Regions from separate parts of the Homo sapiens genome. Here region 1 is linked to region 2. The links come from fine-mapping of genetic effects on gene expression. A gene starts in region 2. The other region holds a variant in brackets. All regions are shown on one strand. Distances are from middle to middle. Region 1 overlaps SKI (SKI proto-oncogene). Region 2 holds the start of SKI (SKI proto-oncogene).

The links. PIP is the estimated chance that this variant, and not a neighbour inherited with it, causes the effect.
Region 1: its variant is fine-mapped to the expression of SKI in whole blood (TOPMed, PIP above 0.99).

Annotation. Positions count from the first base shown.
Region 1 is chr1:2,305,168-2,317,348 of GRCh38, forward strand. It overlaps SKI (SKI proto-oncogene), which reads left to right. Exons shown (of 7, transcript NM_003036.4): 6 at 853-1,083; 7 at 1,410-5,046. The coding sequence ends at 1,598. LOC124903824 (a long non-coding RNA gene) reads left to right here and starts at 9,828. Exons shown (of 4, transcript XR_007065362.1): 1 at 9,828-9,861; 2 at 10,779-10,831; 3 at 11,225-11,844. RefSeq lists enhancers at 1,487-2,120, 8,007-8,660, 10,141-10,894 and silencers at 9,460-9,579, 9,670-9,829, 9,980-10,269. The variant G/C (reference allele first, on the strand shown) is at 3,848.
Region 2 is chr1:2,221,955-2,234,135 of GRCh38, forward strand. SKI (SKI proto-oncogene) reads left to right here and starts at 6,365. Exons shown (of 7, transcript NM_003036.4): 1 at 6,365-7,781. The coding sequence starts at 6,813. RefSeq lists enhancers at 2,431-2,931, 4,286-5,106, 8,936-9,597, 9,244-9,293 and a silencer at 5,426-6,195.

The DNA.
Region 1 (12,181 bases), 83 kb after region 2:
CTGGGCTCTGCCTCACGGTTCTCACGCTGCAGCTCCGGTCTCGCGCCTCCTTTTACGTTGTTTAGGTTTCTTTCTGACATGACTGAGGGAAGTGCGGTTCACAGGCAGAGCTGCCTGGGGAGAGAGGTGTGCAGGCGGCCCGTTGTTCACCGGGCCCCGGCCTCGCTAAATTCACACCTCGGCGGCGTCTGGCAGCTTCCGCGGCGTGGGCTTTAGCACAACACAACCCCGTCGGCCCTCAGAGCTGCAGGGTTGCCGACGTGCCCTCCTGCGCGTGCCAGTCCCTCGCCCCAGCACGTCCCCCGCCACTGTTGTCCTTGATTCTGGTTGGAGGTGTGATTTCCCACATACATATTCATGTGGTGTGTTTGCAGCGTGGGGTGTGAGTCACACGGATATTTTAATGGGGAGAGTGGGGGGGCTTGCGGAGGCGCCGGGCGGATGGACGTGTCCATCTGGCTGCGTGGGGAGACCCGGGGCCCTCAGATGGTGCGATGTCTGAGGCTGCCCTCCTCACATTGATGGGAGCCAGGGCCTACTTGGCTTGCTGCCCCCAAGGGGAACGTGGCCCTAGATACCGGGGGAGGCCCCGCCGCAGCCTCAAGTGACTGACTCAGGCCCCCAGGTTTAGCACAGCTGCCACAGGCCTGGCGGAAACTCCGGATGGGGGTCTGAAAAGCCTTTGTGGGGTCGGGGCACCACACGGGTTGGGCTGATGGCGCGCTGGGGGCGGGGCTCCAGGGCACATTGTCAGATAGATGACCCCACGGGGTGGGCTGAGGACTGCTGGTCATGGTGAGGGGTGTGCTGGGACCGGCTGGGCAGTGACCCCGAGCCGCCTCCGGCCCCCAGGAGCTGGAGTTCCTACGCGTGGCCAAGAAGGAGAAGCTGCGGGAGGCCACGGAGGCCAAGCGTAACCTGCGGAAGGAGATCGAGCGTCTCCGCGCCGAGAACGAGAAGAAGATGAAAGAGGCCAACGAGTCACGGCTGCGCCTGAAGCGGGAGCTGGAGCAGGCGCGGCAGGCCCGGGTGTGCGACAAGGGCTGCGAGGCGGGCCGCCTGCGCGCCAAGTACTCGGCCCAGGTATGCGGGTGGGGAGACTGAGGCACGCAGCACGGTGGGCGTGGAGCCGCCGTGGGCCCCGGTGGCCAGTCCTGCCCAGCCGGAAAGGCCTTGGAGCAGAAGCCAGGCCCGGGACCACGTTCCGTGCGTGCCCCCCCGACGGGCACAGGGTGGGTGGTTGCTGGGCCCTGCGTCTCGTGAGCCTGTGTCCTAGCAGGTGGAGGAGGGGCCGGCACGCGGCACTGGGGAGGGACAGGGAGCGGCGCAGGAGCCTCGGGTGGGGGAAGCAGCGTCGGGCCGGGGCAGGGCAGCGAGCAGGCGCCGCTGACCACTCGGCTCCCTTTCAGATCGAAGACCTGCAGGTGAAGCTGCAGCACGCGGAGGCGGACCGGGAGCAGCTGCGGGCCGACCTGCTGCGGGAGCGCGAGGCCCGGGAGCACCTGGAGAAGGTGGTGAAGGAGCTGCAGGAACAGCTGTGGCCGCGGGCCCGCCCCGAGGCTGCGGGCAGCGAGGGCGCTGCGGAGCTGGAGCCGTAGATTCCGTGCCTGCCGCCGCAGCGCCGCCGACAACGCGGGTGCAGGGGGGCGCGGCTGGGCGGTGCAGCTCCGCCCGGCTCCGCCCCTGCAGCCCACACAGCACAACGTCTTACCGTGCCTATTACCAAGCGAGTGTTTGTAACCATGTAGTTTTGGAACCCACTGCAAAATTTTCTACTGGCCAAGTTCAAGTGAGTAAGCCGCGTCCCCCAACTACAGCTGGAGACGGGGCCAGCTCGGCGGCCTGCTGGTCCTCTGCTTGCTGGAACATTCTAACATTTACACTTTTGTTATAAGCTATTTAAAACCAGTAAGGAGACTTGAAATTCAGAAAATCAACACATTTTTAAATGACTAACTTCTAAAAGCCCCAACACATGACGCCATCTGAAGACCCGCAACGGAGTGGGGGTGGCGGCCGCCCCACCCTCCCCACCCGGGGAAGCCATCACAGCTCATCTGCCCGCGGCTGCGTGAGGACAGCAGGGGTTTTTCTTCAGAGTCTATTTTTTCAGCGACAAGGACCCAGGTCTTCCTGCTGCTGCCAGGGAGAGCAGGGACAGTGCCGCGTGCGAGATGAGCTCGAACACTGCCCGCCTTACTGCCGCCTACCCCGCCCGCCACGCCGCCGTCGATGCCAGCGCTGTCCCCACGGGTACCAGGAAGTGCAGAGCCGCACAGGAGCTGCCCCGGAGCTGAGGGGACGGTCTTCGGCTCCTCTGCACCCCGTGATTCTGCCCACGCTCCTCCACCACGAGGCACTGACCTGCGTCGGGTGGTGACCGTGGCTGGCGGTCACGCCCTCAGCCCCTCCGGGCACACGTGCCGCCTGACCGGGCGACCCTTTTCAGTTCGGCAAACGTCGCTCCCTTCATTTTGGGACTGAGGCTGCAGCATTGGAACAAAAGAGCATTATTTCAATTTTTCTTTCTTTTTTTTTGTTCGTTCATTTAAACGTATATTTAGAACTGCACTTTGTCCACAACCTTCCCTTCTCTTTCTATTCCCCAGTGAACTGAGGTTTTTACCGATTTATAGAGCAGTCAAATCCGAAGTGCTCGAGTGCTTAGAAACCCCCTCTGGTGCTTGGTTGAACAAGGGAATCACAAGAAAACGAAAATGCAAAAACTGAACTTCGGGGGTCGTTCTGTGCCTTCCAGCATCTTGTACAGCAAATCCTGACTCGTGTCTTTTTACCCCCAAGATATCTGTCTTCAGTAGCGACTGAATCTGCCACTCTCAGAATAAGTTCCTTGCATTTATTCCAAATAATCTCGTTTACTCTCACCTGTTTATGCAAATTGTATAAGGTTTCTTATGCCCAAGCTTGAAAAATGATTTCCCAGTAGACAAGAGGCGGCTACCTATCCTACAGTTACGGTATTTATTTACATAAGAAGATCTTACAGGAGTTCTTTGCTTGAATCCGTTCTAACACCCGCGGCAGCTGCACGCGCTCACAGAAGGTGGAGGTTACTTGCCCAGGTACAGACGACCTCGGGGCAGTGACGAGCAAAGACCAGAGACTGCTGAGCCCTCGCATCTGGGTGGCGGAATTGCCTGCGGGGTTTTGCCCTTGGTTTACTGAGGGGGGTCTTGGTTGCTGCTGAAGCCCCCCACCCCTTCTAAAGTGCAATGCAAAAGGGACATCATGTATATGCAGCGTTTGTTTGGAATTTTCTTTGCTTTTGTTTTCTTTGCGGTTGTTCTGTGTGCATGGATTCCACACCTCTGCCGTAGGTAGATCCGTCAGCGGGCATTATTACCGTGTCTTGTAAAGGGTCGGTTTTGTTATGCAACATGCAGAATGCTGTTTTTAGCCTTGTTTTACCAGAGTTGTTTTTTTTTTCAGTTATTTCTTCAAGGGAAACTAAATGATTTAGTTGGAGCAAAGCTTTAAGTGTGTTGGCGTGCTTCTGTGTGGCTGTCCTGTGTCGCCAGGTCGAAGATCACAGTGAGGTAGAGGCCCTGCCCCATCCCCAGGGCCGCCAGGCTTGCTCCGTTTGCTTTGAGTTTTTAGACCCCAGAGGGAGATGAGCTTTTCCAAGCTGTGTCTGGGCCAGAGCCTCTCCTTGCCCTTGCTCCATCCCGACGGTCACCGTTGGGTCCACGCCTCCACCGCCCCATCTTGCCCCAAACGGAAAGCGCTGTATCTGCAGTGGCAGCCCTTCCCCACTTCGGCTCTGGGAGGGTCCAGCCAGTGTCACCTGGGCCCACCCTTTCCTGCAGCTGCCAGGCCCGTGCGGTCA[G/C]TGGGACCCGGACGTGGGCAGGCGAGCTCGGGACCCTCCCAGGCAGTTCCCACAGCTCTTGCCTCGGCTCACCAGGGTCACTTCCACTGTCAGGGGCCTGAGGGGGCAGCTGTGGCTGCAGGGCTGCTCTGGACTGAGGGGTCCCAGGCCCCGAGGGGTGCACGCCTGGCTCCCCTTGGCACAGGTGCGAGTCCGTTTCTTTTCAGCAGAAGGGGGAAGAGGTGTCCGCTGTGTGGGCTGCTGACTCCTCTGTGTGTGAGGCCCTTCATCTAAGTGATTGTGTATTCAGTTTAATTCTCATTATATTTCTATACTGAAAGAAGATTTTTAACGAAGGGAAAAACAACAGCAATAACATTCATATCTCTGGAGCAGCTAACTCATACACGTAATGTCTGCTTTTCGTACAGAACTAGCCAATGTAAAAACAGTTCACCTGTAAATACTTTTTCCTTTTTCACCGTTGTATTATACATGTATATGCTGGGTCCTTTTTCAGAAACTCTTTTCTTACCTGAGAGTTGTCTTGTTTTCTGGGCTGTTTTTAACTGAGGAAAAAAAAAATGCTTTCCTGCCGGGGGGCAGGGGAGACGGAGAAACCCATGTGCGTTTCCCATGTGACCCCCTCCTCCCTGTGGGTCTGAGCCCCGGCCCCCCCCACCTCCTCCTCCCTGTGGGTCCGAACCCCGGCCCCCCCACCCCCTCCTCCCTGTGGGTCCGAACCCCGGCCCCCCCACCCCCTCCTCCCTGTGGGTCCGATCCCCGGCCCCCCCCACCCCCTCCTCCCTGTGGGTCCGAACCCCGGCCCCCCCCCCACCCCCTCCTCCCTGTGGGTCCGAACCCCGGCCCCCCCACCCCTCCCTCAGCCCACCAGGGTCCAGGGAGATGTTCGTTCTCGCTTTAAGTCAGGAGTCACAAATGACTTTTTTTTTTCAATTAAGGAAAAAGCTCCATCTCTACCTTTAACATCACCCAGACCCCCGCCCCTGCCCGTGCCCCACGCTGCTGCTAACGACAGTATGATGCTTACTCTGCTACTCGGAAACTATTTTTATGTAATTAATGTATGCTTTCTTGTTTATAAATGCCTGATTTAAAAAGAAAAGAGCTTGGCATATTTATCTATTTCGCTGTGTACCTGTTAGTCCTTCCCCGACCCCGAAACAGATGACATTGTACAATAAAGGACTTTGAGAGGACCGCGGGACAGCTGTGCGTGCGCCCACCACAGCCCCTCCCCAGACCGGCCACACACGGGCGGCTGGGACCCCCTCGCTTTCAGGCCATCGTGGGTGGGGGTGCTGTCACAGGTCAGATTGTGGGCCTCGGAGTCTCCGTCGACCCCGAGGGCACGTGGGGTCCAGGCGGCCGCCCTGGCACAACTGCCCTCTCACCTAGTCCCCGTCCCCTCTGAGCTGGGCAAGGCCACGGTTTCCTCTGCGATTCAGGGAGCTTGCAGTCCCTGCTTGTAGCACTGGATGTGGCTGGAGCCCTGGCTTGAGGCCACCGTGGCCTTGGGCCGGCTGGGAGGAAGCCCCACAGAGTGCAGTGCCAGGACAGAAGATGGGATGGGGCCTTCCCGGCTGGGCCTCCACGGGGGCCTCTGAGGCCGCACCTGCGGTTGGCCAAGGTCCAGCTCCCGCACGGACAGACCTGTCCCCAAGGGGTGGATCGCCAGCTCCCTGAGGAGCTCCTGGGTTACTTGCGGGGGAGAGGGGAGGTGGCATCAGAACCCTGGACCCCAGCGAGCTGCCCCGAGGGAGACACAGAGGTCCCTTCTCCCCACCTGACCTCACAGGGGGGCCTTCCCAGACCCCTGTTCTGGGGATTGGAGGTGCCATGCCGCATGCCAATTTCATGGAGGCACAGCCCCGGGTGGGCTCCCTGGGGTGCCAGGCCACCACCTCTCTAGGCTTCCTTAGGCCATCACATCCAGCATCTCCAGCCCATCCAGGCCCTCATAGGTCATCTGGGTTGTGGTCCGAGAAAGGCATGGGCTGGTAGGGGCTCCAGCCGGCCCCTCCCCCCAGCCTCCCGGCACAATTTCCAGGTCCCCATCTCTTCTCTCCACCCCTCGGGAAGTGCCCCCAAGCTTGGGGCTAGAGCAGACCTGGCCCTCCCCTCACTGCCACATAGGGGCTTCCTTCTTCCCTGCCCAGGGCCCCAAAGGGCTCATAGAGCCCCCACGGAGGGTACAGGGCGGCCTCTAGACCACACAGGCCTACCCCAGCAGGCCTCAAAACACCCACTCCACATGGGCCTGGCTTCTCCATCCAGGCTAGGCCCCTGGGTGTTGGGGGCAGTGGGCAGGGGCGTGGGCCGAGGGGAACATGGGCCACAGCAGGAGTGGGTGTGGACTGGTCCTGGGCACGTGCATGTTCTGGGGGGCAGAGGATGGGCGGCTCCAGAGTGCCGCTGGCAGGACCCTGAGACTGAGTCAGTTGTGAGCACAGAGGACCAGCCCGGGGTCCAGTGCAGTGGGGAGGAGTTGGGGAAGGGCTGGGCCGAGGTCCTGGGTGGGCCTCGAGGACCGTCCCTGTGGCCACATGGGCACTCTGCCTCGGAGCTGAGCACCGCAGGGCTTGATGACGGCCCTCCCGACCCTCCCGGAGACTCAAAGGCACTGCCTCCAGCAGCCACGTGGGGGCAGGGAGGGGCGGTGCTCTGGGCTCAGTTGTTCCCCAAGCTGCCCCAGGCTTCTCTTTGGTGTTTACCTTTGGGTATAAACTTAGAGCTTTAAAGGGCTCTGGCCACCTGCTGAGCTAGGCCAGCCGTCACCCAGGGTCAGAACCCTCTTCCCAAAGCTGTTCCGAAGGGATCCAGGGGTCTCCTGAGTGCTGGGGGAGAGGAGGCCTGGGTGGGAGAAGCTCCCTGCCTCCATGCCAGGGGAGGGCAGAGGTGGGGGGAGAGAGATGGCCCTCCCCACCCTACCTCTGCATCCTCAGGCTCAGGACTCCCAGCATTCACACCTGCCTGGGCCTCTGCAGGGACCACGGGTTAGCCCTCCAGCCTCAGCTCCCTGGAAGGGCAGCTCCCAGTACCCCTGTTCCTGGCAGTGCCTGTTCCCAAGCCCCCAAGAGCTGGGGTCTGGGGAAGATGAGCTCAGGGAAGGGGATGGGGGCTCCCCCACCTCCCTAGTTTCTGCCCCACCCTGTGCCCCACCCATTTCTGCCTCAGTCACCAACAGCTGTCCTTAGGTCTCAGCTGTGCTGGTCTCCCCCTCCTCCTGGAGCCACAGTCCTGCCAGCCTTCACCCACCAGCCTGTGGTCAAGGGGGCCGACAACGGCTGAGCAGCCTGACCTTGTCTGGGGAGGCAGCGGCCAGCACGTCCTAGGTGGGGAGTGGAGACTGCTGACCAGTTACTGCAGCCACTGGTTCAGCCCCGCGTGTCCGGCCCCAGCCCTAAGCCTAAGCAGGGACCCGGCTCCTCCCTCACTTCACCCCCAACCCGCCCTCCTGCCCCAGCGCAGTGCTCCAAGGGCATGGCCAGGGGCCCCCAAGCTGGACACCCCCTCATGGCTGCATGAGGGGCTCTACCCATTGCCCCAGCCCACAGGCCCAGACCCCGACCCCATCCTGGCCCAGGCCTGGCCACCCCCACGTCCCAGCACCTGCTTTGACTCCCCCACTTCCTTCTGGCCAGGAAGAGGCAGCCCCCACCCACTCTGTTCTCGTAGCCTCTGCACAGCTGCTGGTCCTGCTCCAGGCGACCCGGCCTCTGACCCCACGGAGCCTCCGCTGGAAGGAGGTGCGGAGCCCACAGGGACACCCCCAGGCCAGGGCCGCCTGCCCTCCAGAAATGATGGGGTCGTGACCCTGATGTGTTGGCCCCGGGGGGGTCCCGACCCTCCCCACAGAAACTGCCCTGTCTACTCCACCCACAGCGGACCCTGGGGAGGGGGTGAGGACAGAACATTTGGGGACTGGATGCCCGCCCAGCCCTGCCACCCCCCGGTCTCAGTGACGCACATGGCCATCTGTGCCTGGCCTGTGCCAGGTGGGTGGGGGCCTCAATGGCTGGGGCACCCAGCCCTGGAGCAGGTGGCCCCGCTGCGGGTGAGGACCGGCAGGGGCAGCCTGGCCAGCCTGGCTTGTCTTTGCAGTGTCCTGTGCTGGGCCAGGTGTCCAGCCGGGCTGGGAACGGACCTTTCTCTCCCATGGCCGGGCCTGGCAGCTCTTACTGGCAAGAAGTGCAGCCCAGGCTCGGCCTCCATGGCTCCTCCTGCAAAGGAGGCCTGTTCCAGAAACTTCCAGGGACAGGGAACCGTGGGGAGGTGGGGAGGTAGGGGCTGGAGGCAGGGGCTCCCTGGGTCAGCCCAGGCAGCAGTGTCTCCCAGTCTCCTGCCCCTCCCCGCAGCTGTCCCAAGGACACTCTTAGGTATAGGGGTGCCAAGTGCCCAGGCCCCGTGGAGATACAACTGGCTGGCTTGGAAGGGTGGGCTCCTGGCTGCCCAGCTCAGCCCAGAAACCAGGATTGGGTGCCATCCAGATCTAGAACGAGAGACCAGGGGTGTGGAGGGTCGAGGGCCGTCTAGAGGCCTTGGTGGGGGCCGGGCAGGCCACCAGCCCCGAACCCTGGAGGGTCCCGTGTACCCTGGCCAGTGCCAGCTGCTGCCCCCCTGGCCTGGCCCTGCCAGATTCTCCCTGACAGCCCTGTCCCCCTCTCTGCTGTCGGAACCTTCTGGCCCTTCCTGCAAGGTGGGCCTGGCCAGGCTGGGGTCTTGGTGGAGGGCAAGCAGGAACCAGGGACAGACGATGGAGCTCTGCGTGTCCTCCCTCATGGAGATGCCCCCAGCTGGGTGAAATGACCCTGGTCGGTGCTATGCCCAGGTTAGGCCAGGCTACCAGTTGCAGATGGACACCGCCCTGCGCCCTGCTGTGCCCACCCTGGGGCAGGAGCTGGGCAAGGTACTGTGTGCCCTGTGGTCCAGCCCCACTCTGCCCTGCCCCTGGTGGGGCCTGCACCCGAGGGACGTGATGCCCATGCCCCAGCTTCCTGTTTCTAAGGAAAAACAGTCCTAGGAAAAAGGCTGTAGCGTCGGAGGAGCTGCCCTCGCCAGGGCCTGGGGGGATTGTGGGTGGGGAGGCTGTCCCATTCTGTGATCCCAGGGATGCCAGGAGGGCCGTGGCTGGTGTGGCCGGCACTGGGTCAGGTTTAGGCCGGGGTCTCTCGGGTCTCGGTGTTGGCCCCTCCGTGTTTAGAATCCTCCCAGGCCAAACCAAGGCGGCCTCCAGGGTCACTCCTGCACAGGACAGTGGCCGGAACTCCGAAATGACCACCGACCTGCGCTGGCCGCTGAGGGTCCGACAGACCAAGGCTCTGGGCCCCCTACCCCATCCTGCGCCCCGTGCGCGAAGTCTGCGGGGTCACTGCTGCGCAGGACAGAAAACCCGCAGTGGGGCCCCGGCCTGTCCCCGGCCCTGGCGCTGTCCTGGCATCCGGGGAAATCCTGTTTCTGGCTCCAGGCCAGGGCCTGCCCCTCACCCTGGAGAGGCCCCGTCGGAGGCCGGCCTCGCGGGGGAAGGGCGGTGGCGGAGGAACTACCCAGGAATTCCAGCGCCGGCTCCGAAACCTTCCCAATCCCGCTCCTTCGCCCGGGCCGGAAGCCGCGCTGGGGGGGTGGGGAGGGGTGCACGTCCCGGGCCCCGCGCCGCGTCCTCAGGGCCGGGGCGGCCTCCCCGACGCCCGTTCCGTTCCCAGTCCGGGGGCACTGGGGGCCCCGAGTCAGGCGGAGCGCGCCGGGCCCCACTTCCCCACGCGGAGGGGCAGCCCCGCAGCCTCAGGCTCCCCCCCGCAGCCTCAGTTTCCCCCCCGCCCCCGCCGCCTCTTCCGCTACCCCACCCTCCCTGCCGTCCGGGGCGGCGCCCCCCAGATTCGCGGCCAGCGCTGGATTCCGGCGGGGTGGGGCGGGGGCTTCCGGCCCGGGGGCGGCTGGTCCGAGCAGCAGGCCCGGGCTGGGGGGCGGGACGGGAGGCCCTGGGAGCTTCCTGCAGCGTGGGGGCGGCTCCCGAGGTGGGAATTCCGCCCCCGAACCGGCGGGCTACGTGCGGGGGTCTCAGAGGCTGCGGCTCCTCCCGTCGGTGGGCGCGGCCGCCCCCAGAGGCCGCTGCGGGAAGCAGGGCGGCGGCAGGAAGCGCCCCCCCCGTTCCCCCTTCCCCCCCGTACCCCTCTTCCCCCGCTCGTCCCCCCTTCCCCACCCCAGGCCCCGCGGAGGCGGCGCGCGTTTCACGGGTTTCGCCGCCCGCGGCACGGTGGGGGCGGGGGCGGGGGCGGGGGCGGCGGTGCGACCCCCAGCGGTGGAAGCGGGAACTGCAGCTCGGCCGAGCTCGGGGTTGGGGGGTCCCTGCCAACCCTGCCCTCCCGGAAGGTCCCAGCCTGGCGGGTTCGGGTGCTTTTCTCTCTGGGGCGCGGCCTCCCTGTTCTGCTCAGTTGGGGGTCCGTTCCCGGGAAGAACCACCACACCCCCCATCCCGGCCCGCAGGCCCCAGCCGCCAAGTCGTTGCTGGGGAGGTGGGCGCAGGCCGCCCTCTCTCCGTGAGCCCACTCGCCACAACCCGCAGGGACCTGGGGGACTCGGTGGATCCAACCACAGGAGACCATGAGACACAGGCGGTCTCGCCGAGGCCTGCCGCTTAGAGCTGTCTCTCCTCCTCACGGGCCCCCTGGCTCCCTGCAGGCCTGGCCTCCTATCTCCCTCAGGCCATCAGCCCAGGGACCCCCAGCCCAGGCACCCCACCCATGCTCTGAGCTGTGGGCCTGAAACCCGCCCTCCTAGCAGGGAGCCTGGCTGCGCCCCAGGCCGCTTCTGCTTGGAGCTCCGTGGAAGGAAATGCCCTCAGGTTCCCAGGCACTGAGCCTCCCCTCCCGCTAACCCCATCAGGGGTATAGCAGCCCCGTGGTGCTCAGCCTGCCTCTCTCTGCCTGGGCAGGACCGTGGAGCCCATGCGTGTCCTCTCTCCTGTCCCCAGATGGAAGCCGGCAGGTGGGGCCCTAGCAGGGGACATGCTCGACGTGTGGGTGGATGAGGACCCAGTGGGGTCAGGTCTGGGGCAGCGGGACAGGGTCTCCAGGACGGGGCCTGGCTGCAGATAGGCCGGAGAACGGCTGCTGGTTCCCTGAGGCCACTGGGGAGCCAAGATGCAGTCCCCGAGGGGTTTCCAGGGAGCAGCCACTGGGCTGGGCAGCTGGGCGCAGGGGCAGAGAGAGCTGGGGCTGAGTCCTGGCCTGCCCCCTGGGGACTCCTGGGCTGTAAGGCAGGGGTGGGCAGGGCCTGGACCCTTGTTGGGGGGCCCTCCCTGGCTGTGGTCCACCTCAGGAGCCAAGGAGGCTGGGGGGCTGGTGTGGGCAGCTACCTCTGTTCCCCACGGGTCCTCAGGAAGGCGGCGCCACAGACTGAGGAGGCCCTGCTGGCCCTGGAGCTGTGTTCGGAGCCCCCACAGCCTGGCTCCTGGCTCTGGTTGCCGTGGGCGGGAGGTGGAAGTACAAGGAGAAGGAGTGTCCAGCATTTTCACGAGTGCCACCGCCAGAGGTCAAGCTGAGGACAAGAGGGCAGCCAGGCACCACCCTGGCCCCAGGCAGACTCCCCAGGGCTCGCTGAAGGGCCGGCAGCCCTGGGCCTGGCAGCTCCCCTTGCAAGCCCCAGCTGGGGGCTCTGTCATCCGGGAGGCCCTGGGCCTGACCTTCGCCGGCTGCCCCTGGGCCTGGAGGCAGGACACGAAGGGGCTGATGGGTCTGTGGTCAGCCCCGAGCGCACTTTGCTGAGCTGTGGTCTTGCTGAGCCAGCCCACAGGCCCAGCGACTCCTGGCTTACTCAGCCCAGGCCTGAGGCTCCCAGGGAAGGCCAGGCCAGGCTGTGCAGGAACCTGCCTATGGGGCTGGGCACCTGGCCCTCCAGGAAGGCCTGCCTGCGAGGAGCTGCTCTGCACAGGGGTCTCGACCCTCCGCTAGGCACCAGGAGCGAAGAGGGAGAGGCTTTGGGAAGGAGACACAGGTCAGGTGGGTCCTGTCTGGTTCCCGGCTGTGGCCTGGCTACGCTGTCCTCTGCTAATGCCAAAGGGGCCTGGGCATGGTCTGGAGGGTGTCCTGGCTGAGGCCCTGCTGAAGGGGTGAGGCAGGCATCCCCCCCCATCCCCACCCCGTCTCTCTACCTCTCTGTGTGTCTCTCTCTGACTCTCTCTGTGTCTGCCTCTCTCTGTGTATCTCTGTCTTTCTCTGGCTCACAGACTCCATCTTCCATGGCAGCAACTGGCTTGATGCTCTCTTTCGGTGTCATCTTCGCTTGGTAACCATGGGTGGGAGGAAAGGAGGAATGGCCACTGCTCCCTTGTTTGGA
Region 2 (12,181 bases):
ACTCATTACTATCATTACCATCTATTAATATCATTATTCTGTCTGATTTGGCAAACAGGCCGTGACTCAGTGCCCTCTCCATGTGACCCGGTGTGCCTTATGTCTTGTCGTTACTCTCTCTCCCTTCCCAGCCCTGGGGTCAGCCATCTCTTTTTTTTTTTTTTTTTTTTTTTTGGTGGACTTTTCCCTCTTGTTGCCCAGGCTAGAGTGCATGGCGTGATCTCGGCTCACCGCAACCTCTGCCTCCCAGGTTCAAGTGATTCTCCTGCCTCAGCCTCCTGAGTAGCTGGGATTACAGGCATGTACCACCACACCCGGCTAATTTTGTATTTTTAGTAGAGACGGGGTTTCACCATGTTGGCCAGGCTGGTCTTGAACTCCCAACCTCAGGTGATTCGCCCGCCATAGCCTCCCAAAGTGCTGGGATTACAGGCGTGAGCCACCGCGCCCGGCCTGGGTCAGCCATCTCTTTAAAGAACTCCAGTTCCTGGTCGGGCGCAGTGGCTCCCGCCTGTAATCCCAGCACTTTGGGAGGCTGAGGTGGGCAGATCACAAGGTCAGGAGATCGAGACCATCCTGGCTAACACGGTGAAACCCCGTCTCTGCTAAAAATACAAAAAATTAGCCGGCGTGGTGGCGGGTGCCTGTAGTCCCAGCTACTTGGGAGGCTGAGGTAGGAGGATCGCTTGAACCTAGGAGGCAGAGGTTGCAGCGAGCCGAAATCGTGCCACTGCACTCCAGCCTGGGCGACAGAGCGAGACTCCATCTCAAAAACACAAACAAAAACACTTTGGTTCCCTTCAGTGAATGAAAATTGGGAGCCAAGACTGGGCTTCCTGGTGCGCTCACTACTGCTGAGGGGTCCCTCGTCTTGGTGGGCAGAGTGAGGGCTGATGTTTATACAAAACACATTTACATCAACAGTTTTCTTTATAAATATGGACATTTATGAGATCATGCAGGTATCAATAATTCCAATCCAACACCACATGCTTCCTTCCTCCCTTTCTGTATTTTAACATCGAGAAACCTGACTCTTGCTACCTTAAACTCATTTCCTGATTGGATCAACCCCCCCACTCCAGTGCTTGTCCCTCACTCCCTTGCGCTCTGGCCAGGGCAGCCCCTGGGATGGCTCTGAGCCCTGGGTTCTGCCCTGAGGATTCAGCTCCAGGTGCCCAGCGGTAAGAGGCTTTGCAGATCCCTCTTTAGGGCCCGGCTTCCCCTCCCCCGCTCACTTGCTCTGACCCTTTCCTGTGCTTCCTTGGATCGCCTCCCAAGCAAAGCACTCGAACTCAAATCTTTGTCTTGGCTGGGCGCGGTGGCTCACACCTGTAATCCCAGCACTTTGGGAGGCTGAGGGGAGGAGCGCTTGAGTTCAGGAGTTTGAGACCAACCTGGGCAACATAGTGAGATCTCATCTCTATAAATAAAAAATTAAATAAAAGGCCAGGCACAGTGGCTCACGCCTGTAATCTCAGCACTTTGGAAGGCCAAGGCGGGCGGATCACCTGAGGTCAGGAGTTTGAGACCAGCCTGGCCAACATGGTGAAACCCCGTCTCTACTAAAAATACAAAAATTAGCCTGGTGTGATGGCGCATGTCTGTAATCCCAGCTACTCGGGAGGCTGAGGCATGAGAATCACTTGAATGCAGGAGGCTGAGGCTGCAGTGAGCCGAGATCGTGCCATTGCACTCTAGCCTGGATGACAAAGCGAAGACTCTGTCTCAAAAATAAAGTAATAAAATAAAATAAAGTAAAATAAAAATCTTTGTCTCAGGGCCTATGTTTGGGGGAATCCAAAGTAAGACAAAGGTCTTTCTAAAATTTCTACTGGCCGGGCACGGTGGCATAGCCTGTAATCCCAGCACTTTGGGAGGCTGAGGCAGGTGGACCACCTGAGGTCAGGAGTTCAAGACCAGCCTGGCCAACATAGTGAAACCCTGTCTCTACTAAAAATACAAAATATTAGCTGGGCATGGTGGCAGGCGCCTGTAATCCCAGTTACTCGGGAGGCTGAGGCAGGAGAATCGCTTGAACCTGGGAGATGGACGTTGCAGTGAGCTGAGATCGCACCATTGCACTCCAACCTGGGCAACAAGAGCGAAACTTCATCTCAAACAAAAACAAAAACAAAACAAAATTATACGAAGCTGATGTTACTTGAGCAATTTTTATTTTCACATTTGAAGGTTTCTTTCCCAGTAACTGAGCATGTTTTTGCCAATGGCAGTCTATGCCTGGCTGCTACAAGGCCTTCCTTCTGCTTCCTGAGGAGGAGAGAGTGGGTGGCAGCAGGGCAGGGCAAGGCAGGGTGGAGCAGAGCTGGTCTGCGATGCATTTCCCCACCAAGGTTTCCAAGTTCCCCCAAAGCTTGGGGTACCCCTTGCTTTGCCAGTGTCTTCCTCTTTCTGGTCCTGGGGCGCCATCCAACTCATCTCCACACTGCTGGCTCCTTAAGGTGGGGGTCTCAACTCCAAGGCCAGCCTCCCAGGAGGCCCTCCCTGCCTACAGCCAGCCCCAGCCACTCCGCGCCTTTTGGGGATCTGAAAGATCTCGCTCCCGTACTAGCAGGTTTGTTGATTGACTGTTGTCTCTCACACCAGAATGGAACCACACGGGGTACAACCTGGTCTCCTTACCCTGATCCCAGTGTCTACAGTGGTAGGAGCTCATCGAACAAGGGGACAAACTCATGACTAGCTGACCAAGCCTGTCACCGTGGTAGGGGCCAGGGAGAAAGCTGGGAGGTCCCTGCCTTTGCCCGCATGCCAGGGCTTCTCTGGGCAGGCACCACGTCCATCCCACCCTACTCCGCGCTGTGGCTGTGCCTGCAGCCTTAACCCGCGGCCTGCCAGTATGGTGGCCCGCGTGGGCGACTGGCCTGGGCAGCTGCTGGGCGGGGCTGGAGGGTGGAAGGCCAGCAGGCGGGAGACACCCCCCACCCTCTTCCCTGCCAAGCTCAGGAAGAAAAGTGGACCCTGGTGGCTCCCTCTAGGCGTGGCTGCTCTGACCCTTGGTGGGGTGGGTGCCTTCCTCTGGAAGCTCTGACATATTGGGGGAAGGAAGTCTCAAGAGTCCACAAAGGTGGAGGTAGCTTCAGAGACCAACTGGAGGCCCTCACCTGTCCCCGCACCTTCACTCCATGGCACACCTATGGCTACTTCCCAGGGGTCCGCACTCTGGACAAAGTGTTGGTCCCTGGCTAGGACCCTGCAAAGCCAGAGGCACAGAAGGAAGCAGAGGCTCTGGGTGGGCACTGCCCATGCTAGGGGCCCTGCACAGAGCCCCTGGTCCACCAGAGGAGCCAGAGGAATTCTCTGCTTGATTGGAGACACTTCCCAGCAGGCCTGGCTGCAACCACCTTCTCTGAGTTACAATTTGACTGAGTTGTATGGAATTCAAATCCAGATGGAAGGAAGTGACAACGTCAAGTGCAACACTAGCTGTGTTTTGTCCAAAACGTGGGCCAACGAAACTATCTCCAGGAAAACAAATAAGTCCCTTTTCTATTTTTTTTTTTTTTTTTTTTGAGACAGAGTCTCACTCCATCGCCCAGGCTGGAGTGCAGTGGTGCAGTCTCAGCTCACTGCAATCTCCACCTGCCAGGTTCAAGCGATTCTCCTGCCTCAGCCTCCCGAGTAGCTGGGATTACAGGCATGTGCCACCATGCCCGGCTGATTTTTGTATATTTAGTAGAGAGGGGGTTTCACCATGTTGGCCAGGCTGGTCTCCAACTCCTGATCTCAAATAATCCACCCGCCTCAGCCTCTCAAAGTGGTGGGATTACAGGCGTGAGCCCCTGCGTCTGGACTGAATATCCTTTTTTTTTTTTTAGACGGAGTCTCGCTCTGTCGCCCAGGCTGGGGTGCAGTGGCGCAGTCTCGGCTCACTGCAAGCTCCGCCTCCCAGGTTCACGCCATTCTCCTGCCTCAGCCTCCTGAGTAGCTGGGACTACAGGCGCCCACCACCACGCCCAGCTAATTTTTTGCATTTTTAGTGGAGACGGGGTTTCACCGTTAGCCAGGATGGTCTCGATCTCCTGACCTCGTGATCCGCCTGCCTCGGCCTCCCAAAGTGCTGGGATTACAGGCATGAGCCACTGAGGCTGACCCTTTTTTTTTTTTTGAGACAGGGTCTGTCTCAAAAAAAGGGTGTGTCCCTATCACCCAGGATGGAGTGCAGAGGCTCAAGCACGGCTCCCCGCAGCCCCAACCTTCTGGGCTCAAGCAATCTTCCCACCTCAGCTTCTCAAGTAGCTGAGACCACAGGTGCAGGCCACCATGCCCGGCTAATTAAAAAAAAAAATTATTTTTTGTAGACAGGGTCTCACTATATCGCCCAGGCTAGTCTTGAACTCCTGGGCTCAAGCGATGCGCCTGCCTTATCTTCCCAAAGTGCTGGGATTACAGGCGTGAGCCACCTTGCCGGGTTAAATATCACTTTTAAGGAAATGATCTTCTTACCCAGCTTTCTGGTGTGTGAACACACAGAGAAAGCCTGGCCTCCAATTGTGGGGGCCAACGGAGTGAATGGGAAGAGTCGGGGGACAGTGTGGAGTGTGAGGACAAGGAGACAACCCCCAAGGCAGCGGAGAGAGGGAGTATGGAGCCGCCCTGGGGTCACCTACAGGTAGGTCCTGGCTGCCTCTCTAGACACCTGCCCTGCCGCAGGTCCGGCCAAGACCTGCACAGGGACTCCGGGCCGGCTCCCCCAGGATAGGAACTGCGCCCAGGAGTGCTGGTTTGAGGCAGGTTCCAGCCTCCACTGGGGAAGTGAGGGGCAGGAGGTCCCAGCTGAAGGTCACTCAGGTTGCAGCGGCGTGGCCCTCTCGCCTCCGCCCAGCACCCAGGCCAGCTTGGGCACCCCCGGCCCGTGGGGCATGTCCCTCCGCCTCAGGCGAGCACAGACCGAGCCCTGCCCCTCCCCAAACACACCATTGCGTCCCTGCGCCCGCAGGCCTCGCTGGAAGCTGCCTCCCCTGGAGACCACCCGGCCGACTGTCCAACTTCGGGGCCCCGGGCTTCCCGCTCCCCGCCCTGCCAAGGCTTGAGTCTCTCCCACTGCGTGGCCAGGCGTGGAGGGCCGGCCGATCCGACCCCGAAAGACGTCTCAGCGCTCCACGGCCCCGGGGCGGAGGTCAGGGGTCTCGCCGGCCCGAACGCCGGGCCCCGCGGGGCCGAAGTCCTGATAAGCCACCTGGCAGGAGTGGCTGGCAGACCGGCTGCGTCTGGGGCACCGGGCGCCGCCCCTCCCAGGCCCGAAGCCCCCGGCCCGCGCAGCAGGGACACTCCGCCAGGGGCCGGCGGGCGGGGCGGGGCCGGCGCGGCCGGGAGCCGCGGACACTCGGCCACCGAGCCACCGGCCACGGCGCAGCGGGGGCCGCCGGGCTGCGCCGCCAGGGTCACGCGACGCGGTGCCCGTCTCGGCGCAGGGTCCCTGGGCGTGGCCGCTGTCCCCCTCGTGTGTGGGACCCCAGGTCACCGTGTGGCGTCCCGGTAGTGTGTGGGACCCCAGAGGCGTCCGGGGCCTCCCCGCTGTGTGGTGTCCCACCCTGGGAGAACCCCGGGTGCGTGGCGTGGCCCCCCGGCCGCCCCCAGCTGGTTTGCGGTCGTGGCGGGGGCCTGTGGGTTTCTGGGCCCCGACGGCGGCGAGACGGGCGCCTTCCCAGCGGCGCAGGAAGCGGCCTCGGCCGGAAGGGGGGCCCCGGGCGCCACCGCCGCCTCCGCCTCCGCCCGCGCCCAGCGGCCCTCGGCGGGCGGGGCCGAGCGGGGCCGAGCGGAGTCGAGCATGGCCGAGCGTAGCCGAGTCCCGGCCGAGCGGAGCCGAGTCATGGCAGGGCGGGTCCGAGCGTGGCCGAGTCCCGGGCGAGCGGAGCCGAGCGCGGCCGAGTCCGGGCGGGGAGCGCGCGTTCCTGGAAGAGCCCGGCTGGGGAGCGGGTCACATTCTTGGCCAGCGCTAGGGCTGAGGCGGACGCACGGCAACAAACAGCGCGGGGGGCGGGGCCGGCGCGGGGCGGAGCGGGCGGCGCGGGGCGGGGCGGCGCGGCGGCGGCGTGAGCTCAGCGCCGGGCGCTCAGTCCGAGCCGGAGCGAGCCGCCGGGAGGATGTGCGCCGAGCGCCCCGAGCCCCGCGCCGCCGCCGCGCTCTGAGGGCCGCGGGCGAGAGGCGCCTCCGCCGCCCCGGAAGCCGGGCGGGCGGGCCGCGGAGCCGGCGGGCGGGCGGGCCGGGGGCCGGCGGCGGGCGCGACGCGGCCGGCCAGCGCCGCCGGGACGAGCCGGGCGGGCGCCTCGCGGTGGGAGGAGCGGGGCGGCGGCGGCGCGCCGCGCGAGGACGGCCCGGCGGGCCCCGCGCCCGCGCCCCCGCTCCTCCCGGGCCCCTCGGCCTCGGCCGCCGCGGCGATTCGCGCCTCGCGGCGCCGGCACCTGCCCGCGCGCCCCCCGCGAGCCCCGGGCCCGCGAGCGTTGGCGTTGGCGTTGGCGGCGCGCGCCGGGGCATGCCCCGCGCCTAGAGCCCGGGGGGCGCGCGGGGGACGCGCGGGGGGCCCGGGCGGCGGCGGGCGCGGCGCGGGGCGCGTGGATGTGGCGCCGGGCCCGGGCGGCGGCGGGCTCCAGCGGCGGGACCCCTTCGCCCCGCCCGCCTTCCCCTTCGCGCCCCCGGGCGAGGCCGCGGCCGTGATCGGCCGTGAGCCGGCGGCGGGGGGCGGCCGGGGTCGGGGCCGCGGGCGCCGCCGGGGCGCGCGGGGCGGCGGCGGGGGCCGGGGGGGCCCGGGCGCGCGGGAGCGGGAGCGGCCGGGGGAGCCGGAGCGCACCATGGAGGCGGCGGCAGGCGGCCGCGGCTGTTTCCAGCCGCACCCGGGGCTGCAGAAGACGCTGGAGCAGTTCCACCTGAGCTCCATGAGCTCGCTGGGCGGCCCGGCCGCTTTCTCGGCGCGCTGGGCGCAGGAGGCCTACAAGAAGGAGAGCGCCAAGGAGGCGGGCGCGGCCGCGGTGCCGGCGCCGGTGCCCGCAGCCACCGAGCCGCCGCCCGTGCTGCACCTGCCCGCCATCCAGCCGCCGCCGCCCGTGCTGCCCGGGCCCTTCTTCATGCCGTCCGACCGCTCCACCGAGCGCTGCGAGACCGTACTGGAAGGCGAGACCATCTCGTGCTTCGTGGTGGGAGGCGAGAAGCGCCTGTGTCTGCCGCAGATTCTCAACTCGGTGCTGCGCGACTTCTCGCTGCAGCAGATCAACGCGGTGTGCGACGAGCTCCACATCTACTGCTCGCGCTGCACGGCCGACCAGCTGGAGATCCTCAAAGTCATGGGCATCCTGCCCTTCTCGGCGCCCTCGTGCGGGCTCATCACCAAGACGGACGCCGAGCGCCTGTGCAACGCGCTGCTCTACGGCGGCGCCTACCCGCCGCCCTGCAAGAAGGAGCTGGCCGCCAGCCTGGCGCTGGGCCTGGAGCTCAGCGAGCGCAGCGTCCGCGTGTACCACGAGTGCTTCGGCAAGTGTAAGGGGCTGCTGGTGCCCGAGCTCTACAGCAGCCCGAGCGCCGCCTGCATCCAGTGCCTGGACTGCCGCCTCATGTACCCGCCGCACAAGTTCGTGGTGCACTCGCACAAGGCCCTGGAGAACCGGACCTGCCACTGGGGCTTCGACTCGGCCAACTGGCGGGCCTACATCCTGCTGAGCCAGGATTACACGGGCAAGGAGGAGCAGGCGCGCCTCGGCCGCTGCCTGGACGACGTGAAGGAGAAATTCGACTATGGCAACAAGTACAAGCGGCGGGTGCCCCGGGTGAGTGGCCCCAGGCCTGGGAGCTGGGGAGGATGCGCTTGGGGTGGGGGCCCCTTCTGGACTACAGGCTCTGGTCTCCGAAGGCTGGGACCTGTGCTTCTGCCGTGCCCCATGTCTCCAGTCTTCGCTTTGTTTTAGGGAAATTCAGAGTGTTCCGACTGGCAGGGCCAGAGAGTTTGGTAGGAAGGCCCTCCTGCCCGTTCCCCAGGACGAGCCTGGAGTGCGGGCTGTGGCGGTGGGGTGGGGGGCCAGGCCTGGTGTGTGGGGAAGGCCCGCAGGCCCACAGGCATTGCCCAGATAGGAAGGCACAGGCCTCATGCTCCCGAGAAAGCGGCCTGCCCCAGGTCAGGGAAGTTAGGTCCAGCTGGGCCACGGCCCGGATGCCTCAGGCCCAGGTCTTTCTTGGGGTTGGGGTGAAGGTGGCTGTCCTCGCCCCGAAGGCACCCAGCCTCGAAGACGGAGGGCTGCCTGCCTTTGGGCCCCAGGAGACAGAGCTTGGGTGAGGCGAGGCCTGGTTTTGTTACTGGCTCCCGCTCCCTGTTTGGTGCCTTGAAGTTTTGGGACACAGACACAAAATGAAGCCAGGTGTCCAGGCTTCAGTGGCAGGGGCCCGAGACTTGGCGGCTCCAGCACTGTGCTGGTTGGTCTCCCTGGGCCTGCCAGGGACCAAATCCCAGAGTCCGCCGTGTGGGGTGAGGGCCATTTGGCACCCGGCTGAGGGGCCTGGTCAGCAGGCTCCTGGGCCCGCGTGCTGGAGTTACTGGCGGCCTGCGATTTGCTTTGGACTCACCCATTTCCTTCTCTCCCTCTGAAACGCAGAGGGGTGCGCCGGAGAGGGAGGCTGCTGGCCTGGCTTTGTTGTTTGCCAGTTGGAGGATCTATGGGATCCGGCATGGGCAGCTCCCAGGCCACGAGGTGCCGAAATTACTCAGTGGGGTCCTCAGGAACTTTCCGTTGCGTACCTCCCCAAGTATTTGTAACTTTTCTTTTAAATATCCAGGCTTATTAAATTGCACACACAGAATGCTGCATTGGCTCAGCTATTCTTGGGAGGCCTAATTAATTCAGCTATTGCATCAAACTTTTTTTTTCTAAATCTGTGAATAGATGCTCCAGCCCGGTTTTCTCTGGGCGCCCCTCCAGCAGAGTGTCAGATCGTGGGGAGGAGGGGCTGTGGATGGAAGCGAGGGACTGTCGCCTCTGCTCGGAGGGGGCTGCGGAGGGTGCATGTGTGTGTGCATGTGTGTGTTTGTGTGTGCGCGCTTCTGACCCTGCCAGGCCAGGGCTCAGGTGGCAGCCGCCTGCAGACCTGTGGGCTGGGGAAGGATGCTCGTGGCAGAGCTGCAGACAGACGTAGCAGGCTGGGGCCCTTCGTGTCACACGGGGAGTTGGTTGGGGTGGGCCCGATGGCGCTCCCTGTGGGCTGGGGCCTTTCTTTTTGGGGTGGCCGCACCCTCGTCAGTGCCTGTGGCTGGAGGAAGCCACATGTCGGGGGGGATTGTGGGCTCGTGCAGGCTGCGTAGTGGGTCACCTGTGGCCAAGGCCTGAGCTGCTGGGACACGCTCACGTCACTGTCTTCAGAGCTGATGGCAGAGGATCTCGGTTGAGCAGGGTGTGTCTGCGTTTGTTTTTGTCCGACTGTGGGTCATGTGTGTGCTTGTGGTCTTTCTGTCTTCCTGGGCTTTGCTGGGGGCCCATTGGAGTGGCCAGTGGGGCCTCGTTGTCACAGCTGACACAGAGCAGGGCCCAGGCCACCCGGCTTCTCTCTCCCTGTGGTTGTGAGCGCCGGGGTCCTTGGGCCGCCATAGAGACAGGCCAGACAGGCTCTGGTCATCTCAGCGGATGCCTCCGAGCCGCCTTTCCCTTTTGAAGTCCCCAGCACTGCTCTGAAATTTCATTTACCGATTAAAAAGCAATTCCCAGGCCATACTGACGACGTGCACGGTGTGAGTGACTGCGTCCTCTAGGCCTGAGTGGCAGCCACACAGCCTGGCCCTGGCAGTGGTGTCCTCCGCCTGGCTCCCTGAATGTTCACCAGCTCCTGCGGGTTTTCCTCTCCTCATGCTCCTGGGGGTGGGGCACCCATCCTGCCCGTGTTGCCTCCTGCTCTATGTTCTTGACGTGGGATGGCGGCCAGGGACTCTGCCCTCGCTCAGTGCCTGCCCTTTAGGCTCTGTGACTGTGCACTTGGGAGTTCTGGGCTTCAGGGTCCCCTTAAGTCTCCTCAGGACAGCCGTGTGCGTGTCTCTGTGTGCACAGGAGCGACACATGAGAAGGGAGTGTGGTCTCAGGGTGGGCGTGGACCCACAGTGCCCAGACCCTACTTGTCCTAGAAGGAGTGGCCTGGGAGGCCCCGCCTCCGCCCTCACTGGCCGCCGTTGGCTCCTCCCACTCGTGTCTTGACAGCTTATTCTCGGGATATGTTTTGATTTCTTCACTTCCTTTGTAGCTTATTTTAATATTTTTGATCTGCCGAAGATGAGGGCAGAACAAAGAATGTACTGGAACTCTCTTTGCAGGGCTGCTGCTCCCAGCAGGCCTTCGGGCTCTGCGGAGCCGGAGGGGGCTGAATTGCCTTCCGGGTGTTTGTGGCCAGGCCAGGGTCGGGTCTCCTGCCTGAGTGGGCTGGGTCAGCGCCACTCTCCTACCCATGGTGGGAGGTGGGAGAGGGCGGAGATGTTCCCGGGTCCCAAACCAAGTGGGAGGCAGGGCTGCAGCTTTCTCCTTGGAAGCCTCCTGTGACAGCGGCTGTGCCTGAGCCTCTGGCCTGTCGGCAGTGCAGTGGCAGCATGAGGGGCAGACAGTCTTCCTCCAGATGCCCCCTCATGTCACGGGGTTACAGAGGAAGCCTCCGCTTCTGTCCAGTGGCTGTCGGGCCCGGCCAGCTTCCTGCTGCTGTATCTTGGAAGACCATGTGGGCTGCATGGGTGCTTGGCGAGTCTCCTCTTAGGGACCCTGGGGCTGCTATCCTTGACAGGGGACCTTGTCTCACCTCCCCACTCGGTCCCACACTGGCTTTGTGACCTTGGACGAGTTGCTTAACCTCTCTGCCTCAGTGTAAACTGGGGACTACTGTTTATTGATCTTGGACTTTATGTTTTGAGTGGTACAGGTGGGGCACAGATGGGTCATTGTGCTGCTGGGAGCACTTAGCCAAGACTGGAGCCTCTGAGCCTTCCCCACTCCCACCCCTCTTTCTTCTTTCCGGTCGGCTCGCCTCCTTCCTCGGGTTCTCTGATAGCTGTAGGACTCCATTGGACTACATTTTTTTGTCAGTATAGACAGCTGTCAGAGACGGAGACAAAATGTGGCAGTTGGAGCTGCCGCTTGGCCTGCTGCCTGGGACGCGGCCCCTTGTCCCGCAGAACGTCAGCCAAGCGCTTTCCGTGCAGGCTGATAACAGGGTGGTGCCGTGCTTCCCTTGGGCCGTGGCAGGATCCTGCTCCAAGGGGGGGTCCTGCTCCGAGGGGGCCGGGGTTTCTGTTCCAACAGGGCTGGTGGGGGGGGTCCTGTTCCCAGAGGTCCGGGATCCTGTTCTGAGGGGGCCAGGGTCCTGTTCTGGGCCGGGGGTCCTGCTCCGAGGGGGCCGGGCGTCCTGTTCCTAGGGGCGGTGGGCTGCCTGTGTGAGAGCTGTTCTTCACCTGCCACGTGCAGTCTGGGCATTCTGGTGACTGGAGAATTTGGGTTGTGTTACAGTGTTGTTGCTCTGTCCTGCAGATGCCTGAATTCCCAGGGGTCTTGCAGGTCCCCTTGCCCTTGCGCTGTGTGGGCTGGCGTGGGTCTCAGTGGGCTGTGGGTTGAGGGTCGCTTGGTTGGGAAGCTCTGCGCGCTTCCCAGTGGAGGGTCCGCGACGGGGGTTTTCTGATCCCTCATGCTGGCTTTTGACCCGTGTCACTGCAAGGCTGCCCCTGGCCCCAGGCAGCGTTTCTTCAGGCAGGTGCCCAGCCAGGTGGTCGGGCTTGAGACCTTTGAGTCTCGAGGTCTGTTCTGGGGAATGACTGAGCTTGTGGAGGCCAGGAAGGGGTTGCTGGGCTTGGAGAGCCTCTGGGGAGGAGTTGTGTTTTGCTCTTTGCTGTTTTAAGCTGAAATGATCACAGGAAGGGACAGCATCAAGAGTTTCTTTCTGGGACACCCCTCACTCAGCTCAGCGGCCGTGTGTGGGTTTGGGGCTGTGCTCTCCCAGACACCCTCAGGTCCGGGGAGCACTTCGGGGGCTATCTGTCCCTTTGTCCACCAGCTTCCTTTGGAAAAAGTGTTTGCTGCAAGTGTTTTTCTCCAGCTTTTCGTGGGGTTCCCTGTAGTCTTGGGCCATGCTCTGGGGTCAGGCTCCCGGCAGGCCCTGGTCCCCGTGCAGAAGGCCAGGGTCTGCGGGTTTGGGCTGGTCTGCCCCCCAGGTGAGG